2 linked regions of the Homo sapiens genome follow. The protein of the gene in region 2 purifies or fractionates together with the protein of the main gene of each other region. This does not show direct contact. Each region holds a gene or a part of one and is shown on either strand. Other genes may lie near its edges. The genes, in order: SAFB and STAC.

Region 1 (3,817 bases), on a different chromosome or scaffold from region 2:
TTCGAGACCAGCCTGGCCAACATGGTGAAACCCCATGTCTACTAAAAATACAAAAAATCAGCTGGGTGTGGTGGCGGGCGCTTATAATCCCAGCTACTCAGGAGGCTGAGGCAGGAGAATCTCTAGAACCCGGGAGTCAGAGGTTGCAGTGAGCTGAGATCGCGCCACTGCACTCCAGCCTGGGCAACAGAACAAGACTCTGTCTCAAAAAAAGTTAGCGATCGCTTAATTACAGGAGGAAGTGCAGTGTGCAACGGCCATGTAGCAGAACAGTCAACCTTGGTGTCAACAATGCACTGTTTCTCTTTCCACGTATAGCTCTGTATCTATCCCATGTTTTTACTCCTTTAGAACACTGATTAAGAAGGAATTTGGTAGGGTAAAATTATTTCTCAGTTAATGCATTTAATGAAGGGTTACAGGATGAATGTGCTCCCAACACAAGGATCTGCACCAAATCAGCCTGTTAACTCTTAGGACCTGGTATGCTTCCTACAACCCAGAACCTGTAGCGGTAACAGCAGAGAAGGAGAAAGACTGCACAAACGTCTCAGGAGTCTCCTGGGTAAGGAGCATAGCACGCGATGAACCAGAATCAAATACCCGCCACTGCCCAGGCCATACATGCTCCAAGGGACTGGTGTCGCCGAGGTGACCTACCCTTTTCCTCTTTGGAAAGCCTTTTTGTATCCGAGTCATCTTCGGGAGAACTAGAGACAAAAGACAATGTCACTCCACAAGGAAGCAGCATGGAGGAAACAAACTCAAAACCATAAAATTCGTGCTGAGGTTGCATACCTACCCGAAATTTAGTTCTGAAAAAATGATACCCCGACAAACTTGTATTGAAAATCTGACCTAACCATAAGATTTCAGACCCACAGGAGTTAATTAATTCTGCTGGGCTAAAGGTAATTAGGAAGAATTTAAGAACACAACCATGGTAGGTTGAGAAAAAGAAAAGGAATTGAATCACCCATTAAAAACACACAAAGAGAAACGAAACATTCTTTAGAAGCAAAACTACAATTTCGTCAGTCTGGCTGGCCAATTGCAGAAAAAAACAGCTTATGTGTGTCATTACATGACCAATGAAAAGGAGATAGCGTCTGGTCTAAAACTGAGAAAAAACAAACCTCATTTTCTGATCAGCGCCCTCACTGGTTGAGGACTCTTTAGGAGCCGGAGGGACTTCATTACAAGCGTCAAAATCAAACTTCCTCCCGTCTTCTTTGCTATCTCTGGCTTCTGGGCTTGGGGCTTCCGTGGGTGCTTCTGCGAGCTCCTCGCTAGAGGCCTCCGCGAGCTCGGAGGCCGCACTACTCTGCTCAACTGCCGGCTCTAGCCCTACAGGCTCACAGTCCGTCCTCTCGCCATCGCCTGGCTGCTCCGCGGGCTCCCTTTTCACTACCGCTAACAGGCTGTCTGCCTTGCTCGACTGAGCGTGTGCTGTTGACTCGCTGGCCAAATCTAAATCACCCTCTTCCGGATGGGCGCTGTCAAATAGGTCCTCTTCCTCCGCAAGCTTTCTGTCTGGCCCCACGCTACTTGTGTCCTGTGCAAATGGCTGCTCCAGCTCGGAACTTTCTTCTTTTACTGGCTCAGATTTACAAGTTTCCCCCAAAATGTCGAGTATTTTCTCATTTTCTACGGATTTAACAGGAATAGAATGGCACAAGGTTTAATTACCAGGGAAATAAAGCAATCACAAATGTGGAACTGGCACGGCTGCCACACTAACACGAAGAGAACTGCTAGCTACACAGAGATTGGAAAACCCGCGGGTACACAAAGTTATACTGGTTACACTACCTGCGCCGCGACCGCCTCTAGGTAAGCCTCTACGCTACACGGAAGAGAAAAGCATCCCAGAGATTTAACCCCCAAAACCTTCTGGCTGATTCTTGACAGTCTTCATTCTGTCGTCGTTTAGATATGACTCTTCCAAATTTAGCTTCCAAAGTCCAAGTTGCTTAACTGAATGTATCACCATTCACTGAACAGCTCAATTTCCAAATTTCTTTGAATTTCTTTTAACAGAACAGTCCAACATGAAAACCAGAATCTCTTCCATCCGTGCTCTGAGATATTTGCAGTCCAGAAAGTGAACAGTGTTTGGAATTCTCATGAAGACACTCTTTCCTCTTCTGGAATCCAGTTATGTCTCAAATTTATGTTTTAAAATGTATCTCCCTACCACTACCTGAGCTGCCTCAATTAAAAACAACAAAATTAAGCTACTGCCCAATATCACAAGATCTGTTTTGTGGGTGCAGAGGTATTAGCTCTCAAGAGAGGCATCTGGAACTCTTTCTCTATGTATGATTCAATGCTGTTGATATTCAAAAAGGCATGAGATACTTTCATCTCACCAATACATTTTGTAAAATGAGAAGTGAGCCACTTTCACAGATCTGGTGATATGGCTGGGTTTCCAATCTCTATGATCCTGGTAGGTTTTGGATTGTAAACCTTTAGAACAATGTATACTATAGTAAGGTAACTTTTAAAAATCAAAGAATTCAAATTAGAGAAGGTGGAAAACTAGAATGGTTCCAAACCCCCGCTGGTAAGTTTTTCATTTAACAGTACCTGGCTCCAGGGATGGCTCTTCAATTTCCTGCAAGAAAAAACGTAAATAAGACTGTGCCAGATGAATGACACCTACAGTTTATTTAAATGAAAACCCAGAATAACTAAAGAGGGAATTTTAAAAATCCAGGGAGGGAAACTCACAAACTCAAGAGGTGGAGAACCTGCTTGTTCTAGGAATGGCTCCATAAGACTGGCATCCACTTCACTCAGCCCACCCTCCATTCAGTCTCCCCTGCAGGAGCCTGGAACTGGTCTCACTTCATGGTGAGGCACTCATCATAAGCACGCCTGACCCTCTAGATTGAACTCTCAAATTCAAGGAGAGCAGTGTTTTCATTTTTCTACTGTTAGCATCTAGAGGAATGCATGGCACATTAACAGTCACTTTTTCACTCAATGAAGCTACGACAACTTTCTGATATTCGAAAGACTGAGGGAATATGGGCCCAGGTGGTATGACTCCTGCTCTTACTTGGCATGGTGGTGCCAGCATGAAAAACTTTGTAAATACCCTCCCTCCTTCATCTCCTCTTCCAATCAGTGTTCCCACCAGGCCAGTTCTAGAAGTCATTCAGACTCTTCCCAGGAAGCCCTGTCCACTCAGGCTGGTGCCATCCTTGCCTACTGTGGCATCTGGTTGTATTATCCCCATCCCATCTCTCTGCACCTTGTGTCCACAGTAAGCTCATGTCCCTCTGTGGCCTTCAGCCTTCAGCCAATGGATCCCTATGCCACCTCCCTCCCTGACAGGCCCAGCCCTCCCCTGCCCCGTCCAGCCAAGTCATCCACATCCCTCAGTATCCAGCTCAGTGGCATCTCCTTTCAGGAAGGCTTTCCCTATTTCCCTCTAACCCAACTCCAGCTGTGCCCCACTAAGCAAAGGAGCTTTTTCCACATGATGTGATCCCCCAGCCTTTATGTTTCCTGTGCACACAAGGTACACTCCTCTGGAATTCCAGTCAACTGATGGGCACTGACTAGGTTCCAGGCACAAATGTAAGCACCTTACATACACACAGACTCGTCATCGGTTGCAGGAGGTTGGTCCTAATGGTAGCACCCTTCTTTTTACAGAGTAACAGACTGTGACCAGACAGACTGAGTAACTTGCCCAAGGACACACAGCAGGTGGGAAGCAGAGACAGGCTCTGAGCAAAGGCCGTGTATGAGTGTGAGTCTGCACTGTTAACCATCAGGCCAGGCCCCACGAGCATGGGGACCA
Region 2 (3,817 bases):
CACGGTTATTTCTTTATAATAATCTAGGTGAGAGATAATGAGGTTCAAACCTCTAGTACTGGTGATAAATACTAAGGGTATCTTTGATATTATTTCTCAGTTTTGAATTATAGGACCTAATCACTCGTGGAATATGAGTTTAGTCTGAATCTGCTGATTTGCAATATCTGTAGGACTGGTTTGGTGCTTGGGCAAGAGGAAATACCTAAGGGAGTCATCAATGTAGAGACGGTGCTTGAACTAAAGGAATGTGACAGAGATCAACCAAAGAGAGTAGAATAAGAAGACCAAGCAAAAGCAGACCCCTGGGAACACTCCAACTTAAGGAGTTACAGGAGGACACATCAGAGAAGGAGATGGGCTGAGCAGAACAGCGAAGTTACCCTCGAGTAAGTCAGGGGTTTCTAACACTGCCCAAGCATGAGTGGCTCTGGGAAATGCCCTTCTCAGGTAACATATTTGCCTTGTTAATGGATTACTTCCTTGTTTAACTTCACAATAATTCAGGTTCAAAGAAAACACTGTTAAGGCTAGATGCGTAATGAAAATGAAACAGCTGGGTGCAGTGGCATGCACCTGTAATCCCAGCTACTCAGTACACTCAGACAGGAGGATCATTTGACTCCAGGAGTTTGAGGCCAGCCTGGGCAATAGAGCAAGACCCCATCTCTCAAAAAATATTTTTAAATGAATTAAAATATAGAACAGTAACAATTTCCATTCATTGAGTGTCAATTATGTCAGGCCCTGTGCTAAACACTTTATGTATATTATTGTTACCCAACCTAAGCAGCCTTTATTTACATATAAATCCTACCCATGTATGCTTTGTATATTTTCATCACATTTAGCACCATTTTTATCCTTCTTTCAGTAAAAGAATTAGCATTATCTTGTGGATGCCAAATAACAATGATCTCCTCCCTAAGGAGGTCATCAGGTATCTTAAAATGACACACATTATCCCCTCACTGCTTTGAGGCAATGTCTACCGAAGTGAAACATTTTTCATCTTTACTATGAAATGCTTCAGTACTCATATGACACAGTCATTATAATATCCTTAACACGTGTATGTTACGTTCTCAATCTTAATAAAATGGGATAAGACATATAAAAGTGTATTTTTTTAAAAATGGTAAACAATGCCACCATTGTCAAATTTCTTCGCTATTGGTTTGGTCTTCAGAAATAAGTTGTGAATTCTAAGGGTAAAAGCTATGACTTCCTCTTCTTTTGTGTCCCCTACAGTGCTAGTAAACTGTAGGCCCTTCATTCATGTCTGCTAACTGAGTAGAAGAAAGAACTATCTGATGTCAATTTTATGTACAGTAAGGAAAAAGAGTAAAAATTATTTTTAGTTCTTTCCTCTTAGAAATCAGTGGATGCATGAAGAACAGGGCTTTCAGTGAGTTTAAAGATGGCTTTGAGGATAGCCACATGGCATCAGGCAGAGGACCTATAATCCTACCTACTTGCCTACCCGACCTATTCACCTACCTACAATCTTGTGGCTTAAACTGCACCCAATAGAGGACCTATAAACCCACCTACTTGCCTACCCGACCTACATTCCTATTCACCTACCTACAATCTTGTGGCTTAACCTGCACCCAATGAGGAAGCTGCTTCAACTCAGTCTCTGAGAACCCCTCCCAGGCATGTGCCCTGCCCCTCTTCCCACAATCCACCTAGTCACTTGATGTTGAGAGGACTCAGTGGGGCAGACCATTTGAAGGCTCATCTGTGTCTTGCCTAGAAGCTTCCAGTCCAGCAGGGGCTGCAACAATGGAAATGGAAACTAGGAGCTGGCTATCCTAAGTGGCCATGTGAACTGGAAGGTCCTTGCCTCTTTGCTGGAGGAATGGTGGCTTTCAGCATGGGCTGCAGAGTTGTATGGCATCTTGGAGCATTTATAGAAATTCTGATTGAAACAACCAGAGACAAGATGATGATAACAGGTCACAGAGATGCATGGAACACTCAGTTTAAGTCAGATAGAACTTAGGAGAGGTGCTTGGAAGAGTGAGTGTCCCACAGAGTCACAGTTCAAGTAACTTTGAGAGTGCAGTTTTTGTGTGCAATCAAGAGGTGTGCCCTCTCTTAGAGAGAAAAGACAAAAGATGTGAGAAATAGCTGTGTCTTTGAACTGGAATGTAGCTAAACGGAAAACTGGAAATAGCCAGGATTTCCAAGTTCCTGACCATTGTTTGAGCCAAACATTTCTGTATGTTGACTCATATGTTATCTAATGTTGGTGGGAGGGTAAAGGAGAGGGGGTCCATGGGAAGGGTCAAGGAGCATGAGGCCAAGGGGATGGTCTTTGGACAGGAAAGTAAAATAATCCCTTGGTGTTGACAACAGGAAGTTAATCCTTAGTGGCTCAAAGCACTTTGGGTTTCTCTTTGGCAGGTGCCTGACTCCCTGCAGACCTGCCCTCATGAGGCAGTCAGGTGGAATACCCCATACTGCAGTGCCTGAGGCCCGCTCTGCCCAAGACCACCACAGACAAACCGAGGAAGGAAGAGGATAATTACAGAGGTTCTGTGAGGTGAGTCAGAGCCACTGCCGGAGCTGCCCTTCTTTGTCCTCTGGGCCAGGGAGGTGCCGAAGCGGAGGGTCTCGTAGACAGGGTCCACCTTATTGCCACAGGCTGCAACAGAAGAGAAAGTTCATCTGAGGAAGCTCATCTGAGAGGACCCAGCCAACTGCCTACCACATCTCCTGGGTGAACAGCGCCTGAGAAGCAGGCTCTGTGCAGAGGAACTTAGCCTCTGGGTAGACAGGGCTTTCATGGCCAAGTGTTCCTCACAGATGCACCCCCACCCAGCATGCTCCCATTTGCAGGTCCTGCCATGTACCAGCTAGTACTCTGCTCCCGAATTCTTCCTGATTGAATTTCCTCTTTCGTTATTCCTCTCTGATTTCCAGGTTCTTGCAGGGATCAGCTTTATCTCCTCTACTGGGAGGCTGTGCTCACCAAGGTACAAAGACTTGAGACACAAAGTTTGCAGTAGGAGGCAACTGTTTTAGAAATAACTTGTCACTACTGGGCTTCATTAATTTCTAATTAAAAGCTTTCTAACTTATAAATTTCTAGTTTAAAACTTGCCCCCCCTAAAAAAAGCAAAAATAGATGTCGAGATTTTCAGAGAGAGAAAAAAAATAATAGAAGTAAACTGAAAGATATTGTTAGAGAAGAATCCAAGCCAAAGCTATCAATAAATAGAGGGCATCTTTTGATCTGCATTAGAGAATAATATATTCACTGAGCTCCTACTAAGCATGGGTGAATAACCTATATTTATTTTTTATAGCAATTATGAAAAGCAGCAATTGCTGTTCTCATTTTGTGGGGGTTGACAGGTCAAGTAACTTGTTCAAAGACACACAGTTGTCAATAGGGAGCTGGGCTTAGAGCCTGGTCTGGGGGAAGCCATTCTCCGTGTTCTTTCCACTCCACCATGCTGCTGATGGTGGAATTACTAATCAGTAGCCTTTGGGATTTAGGTGTTTTCTGAGCTTCATCAGGGAGAGGATGAAAATTCCTGGAGAATTTGGTCCACTTTATGTTTCCCTTCCAGCAAAACACACAGTCATACCCCAAATAGCCACCAAACAAACACACAGAGATACCCCACGGGTTTTGCAGCCATGGGAGGACAGTAGCCATTAATGTTAACTTTGCTGCTTCAAACTCAACTCAACCCATCAATGTCCCAACTCACCAATGGGCATAACTTCTTTAATGCAGCCAAACTGTTCATGAATGAGCAAGGGGGAGCTGTAGTAACGCCGAAACCCCTTTGGCTGGAGA

What was found.
Region 1: the proteins of STAC (region 2) and SAFB purify together in Homo sapiens (affinity purification with mass spectrometry; one large-scale study listed by BioGRID and IntAct). This does not show direct contact.

The regions. Positions count from the first base shown.
Region 1 is NC_000019.10:5,646,819-5,650,635, reverse strand, and holds part of SAFB (scaffold attachment factor B1), read right to left. Parts: intron 2,621-3,817; coding exon 2,593-2,620; intron 1,648-2,592; coding exon 1,137-1,647; intron 711-1,136; coding exon 661-710; intron 1-660. UniProt on the Homo sapiens protein: Binds to scaffold/matrix attachment region (S/MAR) DNA and forms a molecular assembly point to allow the formation of a 'transcriptosomal' complex (consisting of SR proteins and RNA polymerase II) coupling transcription and RNA processing.
Region 2 is NC_000003.12:36,484,970-36,488,786, reverse strand, and holds part of STAC (SH3 and cysteine-rich domain-containing protein), read right to left. Parts: intron 3,811-3,817; coding exon 3,729-3,810; intron 3,025-3,728; exon of another isoform or gene 2,862-3,024; intron 2,654-2,861; coding exon 2,538-2,653; intron 1-2,537. UniProt on the Homo sapiens protein: Promotes expression of the ion channel CACNA1H at the cell membrane, and thereby contributes to the regulation of channel activity.